Linked DNA regions of Homo sapiens: region 1 is linked to region 2. A link means that fine-mapping ties the variant in region 2 to the expression of a gene that starts in the linked region. Tissue or cell type: lung. Region 2 holds a variant in brackets; the other region holds the start of a gene. All regions are shown on one strand. Distances are between the middles of the regions.

Evidence for each region. PIP is the estimated chance that this variant, and not a neighbour inherited with it, causes the effect.
Region 1: it holds the start of RCHY1, and the variant in region 2 is fine-mapped to the expression of RCHY1 in lung (TOPMed, PIP above 0.99). The same link has a PIP of 0.9 or more in fibroblasts, subcutaneous fat and tibial artery.

The regions. Positions count from the first base shown.
Region 1 is chr4:75,509,310-75,517,858 of GRCh38, reverse strand. RCHY1 (ring finger and CHY zinc finger domain containing 1) reads left to right here and starts at 3,456. Exons shown (of 9, transcript NM_015436.4): 1 at 3,456-3,662. The coding sequence starts at 3,573. THAP6 (THAP domain containing 6) reads right to left here and starts at 3,386. Exons shown (of 5, transcript NM_144721.6): 1 at 3,339-3,386; 2 at 2,327-2,426; 3 at 880-1,087. The coding sequence starts at 2,406. RefSeq lists enhancers at 2,691-2,910, 2,486-3,416, 3,251-3,730, 3,417-4,347.
Region 2 is chr4:75,477,827-75,486,375 of GRCh38, reverse strand. It overlaps RCHY1 (ring finger and CHY zinc finger domain containing 1), which reads left to right. Exons shown (of 9, transcript NM_015436.4): 9 at 3,710-7,343. The coding sequence ends at 3,838. Among named protein-coding and RNA genes, the nearest start is that of RCHY1, 32 kb to the left of the region's middle. The variant A/G (reference allele first, on the strand shown) is at 4,367.

The sequences.
Region 1 (8,549 bases), 31 kb before region 2:
AGTCAAGAGAGATACTGAGGGTGAGGCAGCCAACCCATGGGAATATTACCCAGAAAAAACATGGAATTCAATTAGCGTTTACTTATTTGACTGTTCTTTCTTTTCCTGACCTTTTCTTCTCCTGTTCTTAGATCTCTTTTTTGGTTTTCTTCCTTTTGATCCTACCTAGACTTTATGCTTGCATGTATGTGGCTCTTACAAGTACTTTAGTCCTGTTAGTGGTTCTACTCCTGACTTCTGCCCCAGTGTTAAGGACTGCCAACTTGGAACATCAGTTCAACCTTCTTACGTTAACTTCCATTTTTAGACAAAAATCTTCAGTTATGCTAATTCCTAAAGTCAGCCCACTTCATCAAACCTTAGTAATATACAAATATTTATGAGTGGTTACTGGTAAAATACTCCTACTACACATTACAAAAGTTGAAGATGCAGTCTACAAATTTAAAACTTCAAGAACAGACTTCAAATGAATAAGCAAACAATAAAAATGTTAGCAAGAGTGGTGAAGGTTCTTCAATAGTATCATAAAAAGTGAGCAATGGCCAGGCACGGTGGCTCATGCCTGTAATCCCAGCACTTTGGGACGCCGAGGAGGGTGGATCACGAGGTCAGGAGTTCAAGACCAGCCTGGCCAAGATGGTGAAACGCCATCTCTCCTAAAAATACAAAAATTAGCCAGGTGTGGTGGCAGGTGCCTGTAATCCCAGCTTCTCGGGAGGCTGAGGCAGAGAATTGCTTAAACCCTGGAGGCAGAGATTGCAGTGAGCTGAGATCGCGCCACTGCACTCCAGCCTTGGTGACAGAGCGAGACTCTATCTCAAAAAAAAAAAAAAAAAAAAGTGAGCAATGATGGTAAACAGTATCTCATAAACAAACCTGTAGGTGATATGGAGAATCAAAGATAGAAGGTATGACTCCAGGTTTCAGTTTAATATTTGGAGCACTTCTGTCAAAATCTGTCTTCTTAAAGTGCCTCGAACACAACACATCTCCTTTTTTAGGCTCCCAAATGCCGGCTGCATTCACATCAAGTCTTTTCATTGCTAATACCCATTTCCTTTTGATGTTTTCATCTGTGGGGAATCTAGAAAAAAAATACAAAAAATATTTTAAAATCAAATACTATTGCTATATAATTGAATTAAAGCTGCCTTATACAACTGTGACTAAATTGATTCGTTAACTAGTTTATTAGTCTTGAGAATTATAATATTTAGGAAACCATAATTCATGCTTTTGTTACTTTCCGTTTTAATATTCAGATTTTCTGCCAATCATGCTGCAGATATATGGCCCTCATTTCATTTTTTCTCACATTATAAGGAAGAAAAGTTTCAATGGATATTTAGCATCTTATAGTAAGATCCACAATTGAAGGTATTTATTCATCTATAGATGATAAAAGAATTATCACTTGGGCCTTTTCCTATCTGAAATGATATCCAGAATTTATCCTCGATAAAAAGGGCCCCTTGTAATTCCATTCTTCTGTCAGCACCAGAAAATTGCTTAGTACAGCATTTAATACATAGCAGGTCTACAGATGCTTAGTGAATGAATGCAGAGAATAGCTGCAGTGTGGAGTTCTGGAGATCAGAGCTATTTTGAGAGATATGAAGGCCTAATAGCCATATCTTACTCAATTTTCAAGCTGGTTCAAATTTTTCTAAAATAAGGTAGGATATATATGCTCAGTTTTGATTTATTATATCTAACAAAATAGCTAGGAGATCTTTCTCTAACACATAGGACAGTGCCTGGCACAAAAGCAGCAAAATAAACCTTTAACAAGTGAACAACTATTAAATCTTATTACTCCTTCACTTACTCCTTCATGGCTGTCAAGAGAATGGCTAAAATATGAAACTAAAATCATTTTGATTTATTTGCAACACAGCTAAAGATCCCTTGGTCTTAACTTGTAATTTGTATTTTTTCTCTATAACCTATGCTTGATCTACTTCTAAATAGAGAGGGCAATATATTCGAGCAAAGCTCCTTCATTCAGATTGTAAACTACATGTAAACAACATTGAATTTCTTTGGCGGTGTGATAAAATACAAAGTAATAATATTAGCAAAAGTTAGCCTTATGGTATTTTTTGTAAACCAGTCTCTGATATCTTAAAGTCTCTGATATCTTAAAACTTTTAAACTAAATTATAAACATGTAAAGGTATCACATTGTCACTTCAAATTTAACAAAAAGGTTATTTAAAAAGGACTCGGGAACTAAAGTTCAAAATTGAAGACTTAAGTAGAACTGTCTTTTGCTTTTTATAACATGGCCAAAGTATTTGGCTTAACTACAGCAAAATCTTACACGTGAAATGTCAGTCCTTTTAACTTCGAATTTGGCAAGCAGCGAGAAGCACATCCAATGGCGGAGCAGCATTTCACCATTTTAGCAACTCATAACAAAACTGAAAGAAAATTAGAATGTTAAGAGTTAGTAACCGGAAAGCTGAAGGGGAATATTTTCCCTTTCCCGGTGTTTTAGGAAACACAAAATCAGGATAGAAAGCTAAAGACAAATATCTTCTTCTAACACCTGCAGCTTTGCTTACATCATTTTCCAGGGCCTTGACTCTTTAATAAGGAGAAACATATTTAGCTGTGTACCCCGAGTATGATTTCAATTTTGTTGGCTTGTACATTTTCCTTCCACCTTCTAACAGGTACCATGTTCTTTGTGCCACAAAGCCTTTTGCACACTAACTCCTACCCATCTTTCAGCCCTCGGCTTGCATCGCTTCCCCAGGGAAGCCTTCCCTCACTGACACTCAGATTGTCAGAGCTGCTCTAATATTAGCTCTCACAGGACACACACTTCTTCCTAGCACTTCTCCAGGTTGTAATCTTACATTTATTGCAGTGATTGCTCTTATTAATGTCTTCCTCCTCCACCAGTCTTGTTAGTTCCATGAGGTCATGGTGGAGTGTGTCTATTTTTCCTTACTTTTTGTCCTCACGGTTTAGCTGGTGACTGGCAATAGTGAATGTCAGTACATATTTTGAAAGAACAGCAAGTAAACGGGAAAGGGAGGAAGCAAGAAGCACTTCGAGGTGCCAGCGAGCACCCTGGCGTCCAAGAGCAGCGCGCGGGACCCGCTGAGCCCAGGGCCCGGGCCGAGCTCCGCCCCTTTCTCCAGGCTCCCCGCCACCGGAGGGAGAGAGGGAGGACCCGTCACAGGTAACGATGCGCCCAGTGAGCGTCCTTTCCTCTGGGGCCAACCAGCGTCTCCGCGCCGCTGCCGCCAACCTCGCGCCGAACTACGCCCTGAGATTTGGGCGGGTAGCGATTGGGGGAAAACAGGCAACCTAAGAGTTATTACCGTTAGCAGCGAAGACTGCGACTAACGTCAACGACGGAGACTGCGTCTGCCTTCGCTTCCGCCTCGTAGCCCCGGGAACCGGAAATCCGTCTGCCCCGGGTCACGTGCTTAGGAGCCATATTGTCGCTAGTGGCCGCTGGGGCTGGGAGGGGTGTGCTAGAGAGGCGCAGCTTCTCTGGGCGTGGTTTTTATCCTGGGGGAAGGATCGGTGGAATGTGAGGGGAGGTGGAGGAGATGGCGGCGACGGCCCGGGAAGATGGCGCCAGCGGTCAAGAGCGAGGTCAGCGGGGCTGCGAGCACTATGACAGAGGATGTCTCCTAAAGGTGACGCCTTCTATGGACTCTTCCCTGACAAGCTTCCGTCAGGTTGGGCTGGGGCGGGCTGGGCAGGTGGTTAGGCTTGGATTTAAGTTTGAGGTTAACCTGATTTTCAGGATACCTTTTCCACCTGGAACTGGGTTCTTCTTGAGGAGAACGTTTTTGGCAAGGCGATAAGCCCCACCTTTCCTACCTGCTTCGTACCTTTAAAGCAAAACCCTTCTTGGGAAGTGATTAGGCTTGCACAGTGGTCTCTGCCAGTGGGCTTATTCGTCTTTTGCTGCCGAAGTAGACTGAGGCAGCCCCGGGCCTGTACTGGGGTTTTCCGTTCAGGTGTGTGATGAAATAATGGAAGTGGAGATAATGGAAATAAGCAAGTGGAGAACCCGAATACGATTTCAGCTCCTGTGGTAAAGTTTTATAGCCTGCCAGCTTCATGTTAAAGGCAGTGCACATGTTCAGACGTAGGAGAAAACGTGTGTCCCAAAAAAGAAGACAATCATGTAATTGCCATTAAATAGGAAATTATGCATAGGAAAGTGCCTAATAAGCATGTATTGTTACTCTGAGAAAACTTCTTAATCTGTATTTTTTTTTAAATTGGCACGTATTCAATTGAAGTTTCCTGATTTTCCTTGCAAGAAACAGTACAAAAATTTTGCTTAGAAAACTTGAGCTTTGGAACCTCAACCGCCCTATCCCCAAATCTTAGCTCTCCTCTTTAATAACTGATTTTAGCTAGCTCCTCTCTACCCCGTATGTAAAATGGAGATGATCGCGCCTGTTTCATAAAAGTGTATGAGGATTATATACTAAAGGGCGTGTATAGTGTTTAACAGGGCGCATTCCCTGAAGTAAATGAGTAGTAAATATATACCACCATGACTGTTACTATCATCGTCAATCTGAGTATTATTATTTTTTGTTCTTTCACTTCACAAGTCAGCCTTGCTGGTCACTGCCTCATTATTAGAAGCAAGTTCAAGTCTCAGGCCTGTACGTGCATCCTAAACTCTTTTCTATAGGTCATGGCTTGACGAACATTGCTCCACTGAACTGGATGAAGCTCCTTAAAAATGTTGGTCATCCACCAAGTGTTGTGTAAGGAAATTGAATGCTATCCTTATGATTCAATTTCTACTGAGATGTATTATTATTCTTTCAAACTTGAGGTCTAAAACGGAATTTAACATCTTGGTGCCCCCCATAAACCACACAATTAGATCTGTGTATCATAGCACTAAGATACTTCGCCCTAGGTGTCAAACAGTTTTTGCCTTCCCCCGCCCCCCCCCCCCCCTTAAATACCAGAGGCCAAGTGAAGTATTTCAAGGAGGATGTGGTCAGCTGGGTCAAATGCAGCTGTTTGAGTAAGATAACTGAGAATTGCCCTTTGGATTTGGCAAGGAAGAGGTCACTGGTGATCTTGACAAGAGGAGTTTTAGTGGAGAGATCAGGATTAGAGTGAATTTAGGAAAGAATGGGAGGAGTGGAATTGAAAATAGCACTTATAGGGTATTCTTGGGGTTTAGCTGTAAAGGGGAGCAAAAAAAAGATGTGGTTGCTGGGAGATCTGGCACCATATTTTTTCCTCTTTAAGAGAGGAAGTATTACAGCATGTTTGTATATTCTAGGAAATGATACAATAGAGTGAGAACGTTTTATAATGCAGGAGAGAGTGAGAAAACTGTAAGGGCATTGTCCCTGAGTAGCCAAAGGGGATGAAATCCAGTGCACAAGTGAAGGAGTTGGCCTTAGAAACATAGACTGTCAGTTCTTCCTAAGGGAAGGCAGAGAATGAGGTATATTTGCAAGTAAGTTAATAGAGATAATAGGAGGATGTTCTTTTCAGGCCTGTCAGCAGGAAGTATGTTTACTGTTTTTATAGTGAAATAAGGTCATCAGCAGAGTGTTAAGGAGGAAGAGTTGTTAGAGTTTTAAAGCCAGAGGAGAAGAAGTGAAATGATCATCTAAATCTTAGGTCTTAGACTCTGGAAGAATGAGAGAATTGACCAGGGAAACGTGGTAGTAAGTGTCCACCTCATATGAACCAGCAAGGACGGTGATGCTTTTTCTCTAGCCATATTCACCTGCTTCTGATAGAAGTCAAATAGGATTTAACTAGGGTTGGGATTGTTATCTATGAGTGTAGAGGAACTGAGAAGGGAACTAGGGTGTTGCAAGGGGAGACTTGGAGTAAGTTAGGGAGGAGGTAATGGTTAGAGAATTTCATGCTTGGAATTGAGATGCAAAGAGGGTGCCGTTGTTCTGTAGCATTGGTTTTCAAAGTGTGGTGAATGGAACCCTGGGGATTCCTGAAGTCCTTTCAGGGGCTCTGCAAGGCCAAAACTACTTTCTATGAACACTAAGATATTTGTTTTTTTTTTTTTTCAGTCTGTTGACACACGCATTGATGGTGGAAAAGCACTGTTTAGTATTGCTAGTATCTTAGCTTGAATCAAGACAGTGGCACTGAACTATACTACACCTATAGTTTTTTTAAAAAGCCAGCTTCACTTAAAAATGTTGATAAAGCAGTAAAATCGTTAATTTTAACCAAATCTCAACCCTTGAATATATCTTTTAATATGCTGTTCAATGACATGGGAAGTTTTGATCAAACACTTCTGCAAACTGAAATTAGAGGGTTGTCTTGAGGAAAAGCTCTTGTGCAAATTGGATTGTAAAGTGAACTAGTTGCTTTTTTTCATGGAACAGCATTTTTTACTTGAAAAAATTGTAGTCATTCACATTTGGGTAGTTGGCAGACATTTTCTCAAAAAGGAGAAAAGTGAGACTCACTACAAATGAAAATGACAGTATTTGTTGCCAGTGATAAAATTCAAGCTTTCACACAAAAATTAGAATTTTGGAAAACTTTTACTAGCTTTTGTGAGGTTGGAAGCTTTTTAAAAGACTTTTTTTGGTGAGATTTTCTTCAATACCTAAAGACTTTTAATGAATATGATTTTTTGATATTGCATGTTAAATGTGTGAACATTTAGAAGATGTAAATAACTCACTGAACTGGTATTCTCCAGATGACCAATGCATGAGTAAAACATCCATTTGAAGTGCAAGATAGAGCAATAGATTTTAATGTAACCAAGGAAGAAAAGAGGCATCATATCAATCATATTCCTTGATACGATTTCAGATTTCATGTTGCAACTACCCTTTAAGAGTTGTTGTTCTAGTGTAATATCAGAGAATGATATCCATAATTCTCCAAAAAGGCTATTAAAATACTCCTTTCTTTTCCAGTGTACATATTTGTGTGAGGCCAGAGTTTCTTTTTGTACTTCAGCCACAACTGTTTGAATGCATAAGCAGATAGAAGAATTCAGCTGTTTGGGGGGAAAAATATAGTTATTTTTCATTAAAACATGTTATTTATGTTAACAAGTAATGAGTTTGTTACTTTTAAAAAGAAGTAATATTTTAAAAACCTATTCTTTTTAATTTATGATGTGGTATATGTCAATAGATAAAATCCACATAAACCAAAGCTCTTTGGGATTCTCAGTAATTTTAAAAAGTGTGAAGGGATCCTGAGACCAAACCATTTGAGAACTACTGTTCTGCGGTATAACTATGAGAATAGTGGGTTGGAGGACAAGGTTATTGGAAATGACAAAGTTAAGGAACTGAGAGTTGCAGAAAAAGGAAGCCAGTTAAGTGTTAAAATCTTTAAGGAATGAACTACGTTATGGTAAGTCAAGGCATAGGAAGCCTTCAGAAATGAGTGGATCTGCAAGGTCACAGTGTATTGGAAAGTCACTGGCCTGGAAATCTCTTGATATACTTGTAATGGTAAAGTTGCTGTAATGAAAAAACCCAACAGTGATGTAGATTAAAGAGTAAAGGTTTTATTTCTTTCCATTTAACAATTCCAAGGCGAGTGATGCAGGTTGGTGATGAGGCTTTGCTCCACATGGTCACTCCAGGGATGAGATTTTTCTGTTGTATCATTTTGTCATGTTTTAGGGCATGTGGCCATCTGTCTGATATAGCTGAACAATTGTGCCCAGGAAGGAGAGGATAGATTTTGGTGGACAACTGGCAGTCTTTGCCGTGTTTGAAAACAAGGGCTGTCTCTTACATTTGTTGCATTTTGTGCAATATTAGATATGAGGTTGATGATTAATAAAAGCTAGTAAAATAAGAATATAATCTTTATTATTTTTAATGTAAATGAATTTATCTGGAAATGTCTAAGAAGAGGTTGCCTGTTTGCTGTTTAGGCTCAGAATGAAATTGGGGTGTTATATTAGTCTGTTTTCACACTGCTGATAAAGACATACCCAAGACTGGGAAGAAAAAGAGGTTTAATTGGACTTACAGTTCCACATGGCTAGGGAGGCCTGAGAATCATGGCGGGAGACAAAAGGCACTTCTTACATGGTGGTGGCAATAGAAAATGAGGAAGAAGCAAAAGTGGAAACTCCTGATAAACCCATCAGATCTCATGAGATTTTATTCATTATCACGAGAATGGCACGGGAGAGTCTGGCCCCCATGATTCAGTTACCTCCTTCTAAGTCCCTCCCACAACACGTGGGAATTCTGGGAGATACATTTCAAGTTGAGATTTGGGTGGGAACACAGCCAAAGCATATCAGGTGTTGTGGGATTAGTGTTTCAATCTAGGGATTTCCTTCATAATTCTTTTGTTTTAAAGTTGTGTTCAACTTCATACAGACGTAGTGATGTTGAAGGGAAGAATTAACATAAAATATGCCAAGAAACTAGTGAAATGTTATGTTTAGGATCAGTTTAGCAACTGATCTATTGGTTGTAATCTTTCAGTTCCATCCAGGAGGAGGAGGAAGAAATTTTCTTTTTGTATTGCACACTTAGTTTCTTTTGCTTCTTACTATATCTCTTTTTTCT
Region 2 (8,549 bases):
TTTAACTTATAAATGACTTAAAAGTTTTATGATTATTTACTTAAACATATGACTATAAGATTTTAAATTACTGAAAAAAAATTTGAAATTAGGACACAGATGTACCCTCCCGAATGTTTTCTCAGTCATCTTGAGTCTCAAGTAGTCATATGTCAACCAGGAGGGCTATGAAGGGCAGAGCCTGTCTGAGTCCTGAATTTACGTACCACTTACAGAGCTTTGAACAGAAGACAGAGCTGTAAAGATGATGCTTGGAGGATGGAACCCCTCCTAGAATAGCCAGGAGGCAAAGCTAAGACAGGGAAGAAGAAGCTCTAGTGGGCTTGATTCTGCTTTGTAGCTACAGGTCTAGGCACTGAGAACATGTACCCAGGTCTCACCTAGCCAGACTTGAGAATCTAGAGGTTCAAAACCCAAAACAAGCTCACAGTCAAATCAAGCAAGTGTTGAATTATATTCAACAGACACCTCTGAAGCCATTCCTATTTACTAACAATATAAAAACTGGCTTTATTTACCAAATGTTATCACATACACATAACACCTATAGGAATACAGACACAGACAGAAGCAGATCTTAGAGCTTTCCTAAAGGATTCTCATTTGCTGGCTTTTAAATAGTTTTTCTATTCACCATTCAGACTATCAGTTTACCAATTAACCTGTTTCATTGCCCTAAGCAATTGTTAGCTAGGCAGCCCTAAATATGCATTTCTAAAGGGCCAATTCTTAGGTCAAACAAGGTAGAAAATGTATATCTCAAAAGCACACAGCTAAGACTTTAGACGTAAATATTGTACCATCATTTGCTCAAACCAAGGAAAAAATGGTGTGAGTAAAAGTTAAGACAAGATGGCCAGTCACCTTAAACAAAGGTATGACTTACTATATAAATTTAAAATAGTGATAAGAGTTCCTAATGTACACAGACACCTTTACAAATGTAAATTTCCTTTATAGATATAAATTGATTTTACCAAAAGGGTTTCAGGATAGCCTTCAGTATAGCCAGTTGAATGCCAGAAAGGTATACTTTAGTTCCATAGATCGTTTTTAAAAATTTAACTACTGTTTCTTAGCTAAAATTACTGAGTTCAGGGTGGAGCCCACTAAGACAGTAGGGGAAAGACAGCGTTCTTTTTTATTGTTTGCAGTTTACTCAGAAATTAAACAGAAGTATCTTAGTGTCCATGTCCATGCCTGGGCACAGTATGGATAGATCTGAAAAAGAGGCAAGTCAGCTTTACCTAAGGGCCTATATTTTATAAACATTTAATCCAGGCTAGCTTTCTTTTAGCCTTCAGGGCAGTATAGTAACTAAGCCAAAAGGCTAGTAGATTTAATTTGTCTTATCAGTTAGTTAAGCTTTTTATTTGCCTTTTAAAACATCTTTTTTTTAAGGCAATAAAAATATTGAAATATTTTTAGAAGCTTCACTCAATAGGCATTCTTAGATGAGTCTAATTTGGGAGCCCTCATTTTCAAATGCACTTTTTTTTTTGGTTTGGTTTTTAACAGCTTATGGCCATCATCAAATGCACTTCTTAAAGTGTAGTTTTAAGTGTTCATTTGGGACGTTCCATTATAATTTTAAATTACTTTTAGTAAGGTTTTGCCATTTCTATAAGCAAATGGCATTTTATCCTTCTATAAAATGTTTAAAAAGTGCTGCTTCTGGGGCCTAATACTTACACTTGTAAATGTAGGCAGAGCCAGAAGGTAGATTGCTCAGTTCTTCAGAAATTAAGGATCCCATTTTCACCTTGAATCTTGGCTTTGGCTCTCATATTTCCTTGGTAAACTTAACCAGTGATTTTTCTCTACTTAAATGTGCAAGAAGAAGAATTGAAGAGGGCAGGACACAAAAAACCCTGTGAATTTCCAAAAGCCAAAATTTGCACCCCCACCCCCTGCTGTTTTGCCATTTACTGTGCTTCTGCCCGACCCAGTCAGGCATAAGAGGTCTTTAGCTAGATCCAAGGCAGTTGGATCCTGGACCCAGTCCAGTTTTTGTTGCGACTTCTGAATTCAGTTCAGATAGAAAATGTGTTCAAAAAAACTTGGATAGCTCAAAACACAAATGCGCAGAGCTTTAGAATCTGAGAACTTACCATGATTCCTAATGGCTGCAAGAGAGCAGTGGACACAAAGGGCCTAACGGTACCTTACTGGGTCCCCTTGGTGCTCCTGGCGGTCACTGAAAGCTGTACTTCAAATCCCACTTCTGATGCCAGCTGTTTGAAGCAAAACCTTACACAAATTAAATTTAACAGAACTTAATTGAGAAACAGTTTGTGAATCAGGCAGCCCTGAACCAGAATAGATTCAGAGGGTCTTGACTTTCTTTATTTGGTTGCAATTAGCTTGCAACCTAAAGCATAAAAGGTTGTTTCTGTGCCTTTTGGCTTATGGAGAGTGATCATCTTTTTTCGTTTAATTAAGATGTGTTGCTGTCTCTTCTCAGCCATACATGGTATTGAGTTTTAGATTAGAATGGGAAAGCCTAGTATTCTGGCTAGATAATTTTTGGTTATATTACACATTTTCTGAACATCTTCAGATACTTCAGCATACGAGGATAAAAACCACGTAGCAAAGCCAAATGAAAATTATTTTTTGTTTTATTTACACTGGAGTGTTTCATAATTCATGTGGATAATTGTTAGGGCAATGAAAAATCACTTTTGGAATACTAACCGATAATCATGTGATTGACTAGAGGCCGAAGTGTGCTATGTTCCATGTAGATAATTTTTGGAAATAATGGCTTCATTAAGATACAATTCACATATTATATAGTTCATTCATTTAAATTGTACAATTTGGTGCTTTTTAAAATATTCATGTAGTTATGCAAACATCACCACAATTTTAGAACATTTTTATCATCCCAAAAAGGAAACACTCATACCCATTAGCAGTCATTCCCTAACGCCCCAGGCCTAGGCAACCACTAATCCACTTTCTCCATTTAGATCATATTTTTTAAATAATTATTTTCCAAATTATAATTTAGAGCAAATTTGGAAATTTTCTGCTTATTATAGTGTGACTATTCAAAAACTAGTGCTTTTCTTGCATAGTAATGTATTGATTTTCAGGTTAACACCTTTGTTATTTTTCAGGTTCTTACTTAGCACTAGAAGAAATTAATTCTTAAACGGCATCTTATTGTTATTGTAGGGATGAGCGAAGAGCCTCTCTGTTTACTCAATTTTAGGAACACTCTTTTTGGAATTTAATTCATTCCTAAGGCAGAGAAGACAGGGAACAGTATACTAAACCTAAAAAATAAGCAAAAATATTATTTGTGTAAAAATTTTGGTTTTATTAATTGAGATACATTTCTGACTGAAAAATAATGAAATCATGTTGTTATTTTGAATTATAAGTATCAGGTATTCATCTGATTATGCCTAGGTTAATTTTCTTGCTTGTACTATTTATACTATTTAATATTTGGAAACTATTTTAAAATAAGCTTTTTTTTTGCTCAAATCTGCCTTTTCATTTTCTGAATTCAGAGCCACCTTAATAGCTTTTTAGAGTTTTCAGTGAAAAAATAAGAAGAAATTTCTACTTTTGGAAATTTTTAGACTTATGTATGTATTTTCACATCTTTAATATGATTTTCAAGGGATTATGAGTAGACAATGCTACTTGTATTTATAAGGTTTAAAATACTTAATTTGAATTAATCTCTTTTCAGATTCTCTGCAATGACTGTAATGGACGATCCACTGTTCAGTTTCATATATTAGGCATGAAATGTAAGATTTGTGAATCCTATAATACTGCTCAAGCTGGAGGACGTAGAATTTCACTGGATCAGCAATGACGAGCCTACACAGTACTGGAGAACTTGGCATTTTCTGATATAGAAAAAGGCTTTCCTTGGTATCGTGTTATCATGTGTCGTCATCTATGCATTAGAGTTGATGTGTTTTGTACTAGTGTCACAGCATAAAATCATATTACAAGTACGTAAGGATTCAGGGTCTCTTGATAGACTTATCATAGCTCTATATTGAATGAAAGCCACTGTGCTTGTGTTTTGATTGGAAATTCCTTTAGTGTCAGTTTTTTGGAAGCCAATGATGTTTGCCACTGATACATTCATAGAAGTGTATTATATTTTCATGAAGCTTTGCTTTAAGTGACACTACGCGTGCAGTTCATTTCTAGTTCTTGATAGAACTGCACTTAATTTTCAGTAGTAGTCTTGACTTTTTAAGGGCTGTGTTATATTAAGTTCTCCCTTACTGTTAAAACCTAATTAAATATGCTTTAGAATTTTCTAAGACAGTCCTCTGGATCCTCTAAATGTGAATTTTGATGTAATAACTGCTAATAAAATTATATTGAA[A/G]CTGTTTTATAGAAAGTTTTTTCCAAAGTTTTCTATGTTTGGCTCAATTAGGGCAGTATCATCAGTTCTATAATGTAAAAGAAATTTTCTTTCTTTTGAGGTATTCCATAAAAGTAGTTGGGAAAATTATTATGTAAAATAATAAGACTCTTCCAAAGCCTTAATAAAAACATCAACATTGAAAACAGTTTTTTTTAGGTTGCCCAAAATTATTTCTTCAAAGAGTCATTCATTCCTTCATTTAGCAAGTATTTATTGAGCAACTGCTATGTGGCAGATATGTTTCTAGATGCTGTAGAGACAACAGTGAACAATAAAGATAAAAGTCCTTGTCCTCACAGCAGTACATTCTATTGTTCATCATATTTGATCAATGTACTCATTTTTCTTTATGCAAGGAGTGGATGTCTTATTGTAAATGAATAGAATATTTCTTCCCTAAGCGTGTGAAAATAGGGGATGGATGAGTGGGAAGGGCATGGGATATTCCTGGCAAGATCTCTGATTTCATAATACTTTTTTGGGCTCATGTAGTGGAATTAAATATACCTCTTACTTCAGGAACAAAGTTAACAAATATGTTTGATGATCCAGCCGACTTTGACACTGTTATCTCCGTAATAGCTTTACCATTAGGCTAGGATGTAAAATGTACATTTATCAGTTGATAAGTACCTATTGAGCACCAGTTGTATTTCCAACTTTGAGCTATTTGAATCTTCTTTGAATAAGGAAGTTAGCCTTTTAACTAGAAAGCCTAAGAGTTCTGGCACATTTATTTCTTCTTTTGTTGAAATTTATTCACCTAGATAAAGGCAGCAGTTTGGGACTCAGATCTTTATTTTATCCCACCTTCTTGTCTTCTGTATTCCACTCTTCTTATGTTCTTTCCCTTCATCTGTTTCCTTGGCCTGGCCAGAGCAGCAGTGCTGATCTTCATTTGGGAAAGGATGTTCCTGGGTATTACCAATTAGTATACAGATAAGTAAAGACTAGTTTTCCAGATCTAATACTTTTTTTTGAAGTGGTTTTGCTCTGTCATTTAGGCTAGAGTGTAGTGAAGTGATCGTAGCTCACTGCAGCCTTGACTTCCTGGGCTGAACTGATCCTTCCACCTCAGCCTCCTGAGTAGCTGGGACTACAGGTGTGTGCCACCATGCCCAGCTAATTTTTAATTGTTTTGTAGAAACAAAGTCCAGGCTGGTCTTGAACTCCTGGGCTCAAGCATTTCTCCTACCTCGGCCTTCCAAGGGCTAGGATTACAGGCATGAGCCACTGTGCTTGGTCCAGATGTATTACTTTTTATGTTTGGTATTATTCTGCCAAACCAATCATGTTATTGTTTTTAATCATTGAATCATTGGATCTTTAAATAGGAGTGAGTATATAATAATAAGGCTCTTCTGTTTTCAACATCTGTGCTGGGTCATGCATTAGCATTAATTACTACAATGATTCTGTGGGGTAAGTGTTGTCCTCATAGACAAGAAAGCTGAGGTTTAGAGGTTAAAATGACACATTGGGGGTAAATAACAGACACTATATGTTGGAGTTGGGAATCAGATCCAAGTTTGACTCCAAACCCACTTTTACCACATTGCTTTTGATCTAAACTTCTATTTTGCTAAAATACCCCTCACAGCTAGTCATCCATATCATTGAAGCGCTCATGATTTGATAGATTAACCTTTCATTTTTTTAGGTGACTCTAGTTAGAAAGTCTTATTTCACAATCTGATTGTTTCTTTAACTTAGGATCCAAACATGTCCAAAATAATGCAGAGTACATATGCAATCACTCGTTTATGCTGTCTAGTCATGCACTTAAAGCAATTTTCAAATGTACTCAAAGTCTCTAGGCTTCGGTACCCAGGGTTGCTTCAAGTATTTGTTCATGACACGTCAACTCGATGATTAAAATCCTTCAACACTTCTCATTCACAATAAGAATAAAATCTACATCCCTTACCATTCAGTATGCAAAACTTAAAATACATAACTTTACCCTTAAATATTTTTTCTTTCTCTGACTTCATAAGTATAGGTTATACCTCTATAAGAAAGAAGGTAAAAAACTCTCAACAATCCCTTCTTTCAGAGAGAACTACTGTTAACATTTTAACAGACAACTTCATTCTTTTCCTATTCTTTTTTATAATGCTTACAGGAATGTTAAATACTTAGACAGATCTTAAGTACACTAGAATTATCTGTCCCTGAAATAAGTTAGGTTGCCCTGCCGCAGAATTTGTATCTATAGTTTATTTGGATTATTTTTGAAAAAAGTAAAATAACAATACCCTTACGAATTTTTTGGTGCATAGCATCTCAGCTTCTTTTATCATTAAAGATGTATGTATAAAAAAAAAATGAGTGTATATCAAGTTGTTCATTTCTTAGTTTCTGGGGTCTTCTTAACCAGTACATAGAACTCTTTATGAATTAACTTTAGCTTATGTTGGAAGTAGTAGTTTGTTTATAGTGTCATGGATTTTAAAATCAAACTCAGTTTTTATTTCTTCACTAAAACCTATTTTCATATGATATACATGTTAAATTTCCCTTTTATTTTGGTCATGCATCAAAATAAATTTACTAAGTACTAAAGAGCCAACATTATTTTATAAGTGCCTGGCAATAGGTATTCACTAGTTGAATAGTTTAATTTGAAATGAATTAATTTTAAATGGGAGTTGTTCAAAACTATGCCACTTTTTCTTTTGTCCTTTGTGTTATTAAAATTTAATTGATAATTGTGTATATTATATATATGGAGTACAATGTGATGTTTTGATATATGTTTACAGTGTAGAATGATTAAATCAATGTAATAAATTTATTGCCTCATACCATTTTTTGTGGTAAAAAAACCACTTAAAATCTACTCTTAATATTTTTGAAATGTACAATGCATTATTTATTATACTCACCATTCTGTGTAATAGATCAGTAAAGTTTATTCCTCTTGTCTAACTGATATTTTGTACCCTTTGATCAGCATCTCCCCTTTTCCCATCCACTTCTCTCTCCCAGCCTCTGGTAACCACCATTCTACTTCTATGAATTCACCTTTTTTTTAGATTGCACAGATAGCTGAGATCACATAGTATTTACCTTTTTGTGCCTGGGTTATTTCATTTAGTATAATGTCTTCCAGGTTCCTGTCACAAGTGACAGGATTTCTTTCTTTTATAGGGCTGAATAGTATTCCATTGAGTATATATGCCACATTTTGTTTTCATTCATATGATGATGGACATTAAGATTGCTTCCATATCTTAGCTGTTGTGAATAATGCTGCAGTGAACGTGGTGGTACAGATACCTCTTTGACACACTGACTTCAGTTCCTTTAGCTATATGTCCAGAAGTGGGATTGCTGGATCATATGGTAATTCTATTTTTAGTTTTCTGTCTCCATGCTGATTTTAATATTGGCTGTTTTAATTTACATTCCCAACGTCAGTGCACAAGTGTTCCCTTTTTTCTACACCCTGTCAACACTTTTATCATTTTGATAATAGTAATTCTAACAGGTGTAAGGTGATACCTTGTGTTAATTTGCATTTTTCTGATTAGTGATGATGAGCATCTTTTCATATATTTGTTGGCCATTTGTGTCTTTTTTAGGAATATCTGTTTACATCCTTTGCCCATGTTTTAATTGAGTTCATTTTCTTATTAGTGGCTTCAGTACCTTATGTATTTTGGATATTAGCCCCTTATCAGATGTATGATTTATAAATATTTTCTTCGAATTCATGGGTTGTCTCTTCATTCTATCATTCACTTCACTATGCAGAAGCTTTTTAGTTTGATGCAGCGCCATGTATTTTTTGTTGTCTGTGTTCTTGGGGTTATATCCAAGAAATCTTTGCCCATACCAGTGTTATGGAGCATTTCCCCTGTGTTTTGTTCATGTAGTTTTATAGTTTCAGGTCTTATGTTTAAGTCTTTAAACCATTTTGAGTTGATTTTTATATGTGGTGTGAGATAAGGATCCAGTTTCATTCTTCTGCATGTGTATATTCAGTTTTACCAACACCATTTATTGAAGAGACTGGCTTCATTGTGTAGTGTTGGCATATTTATTGAAAGCCAATTGACTATAGGTGTGTTGGTTTATTTCTGGGCTCTCCTGTTCCACTAGTCAACATATCTGTTTTTATGCCAGTATCATGCTG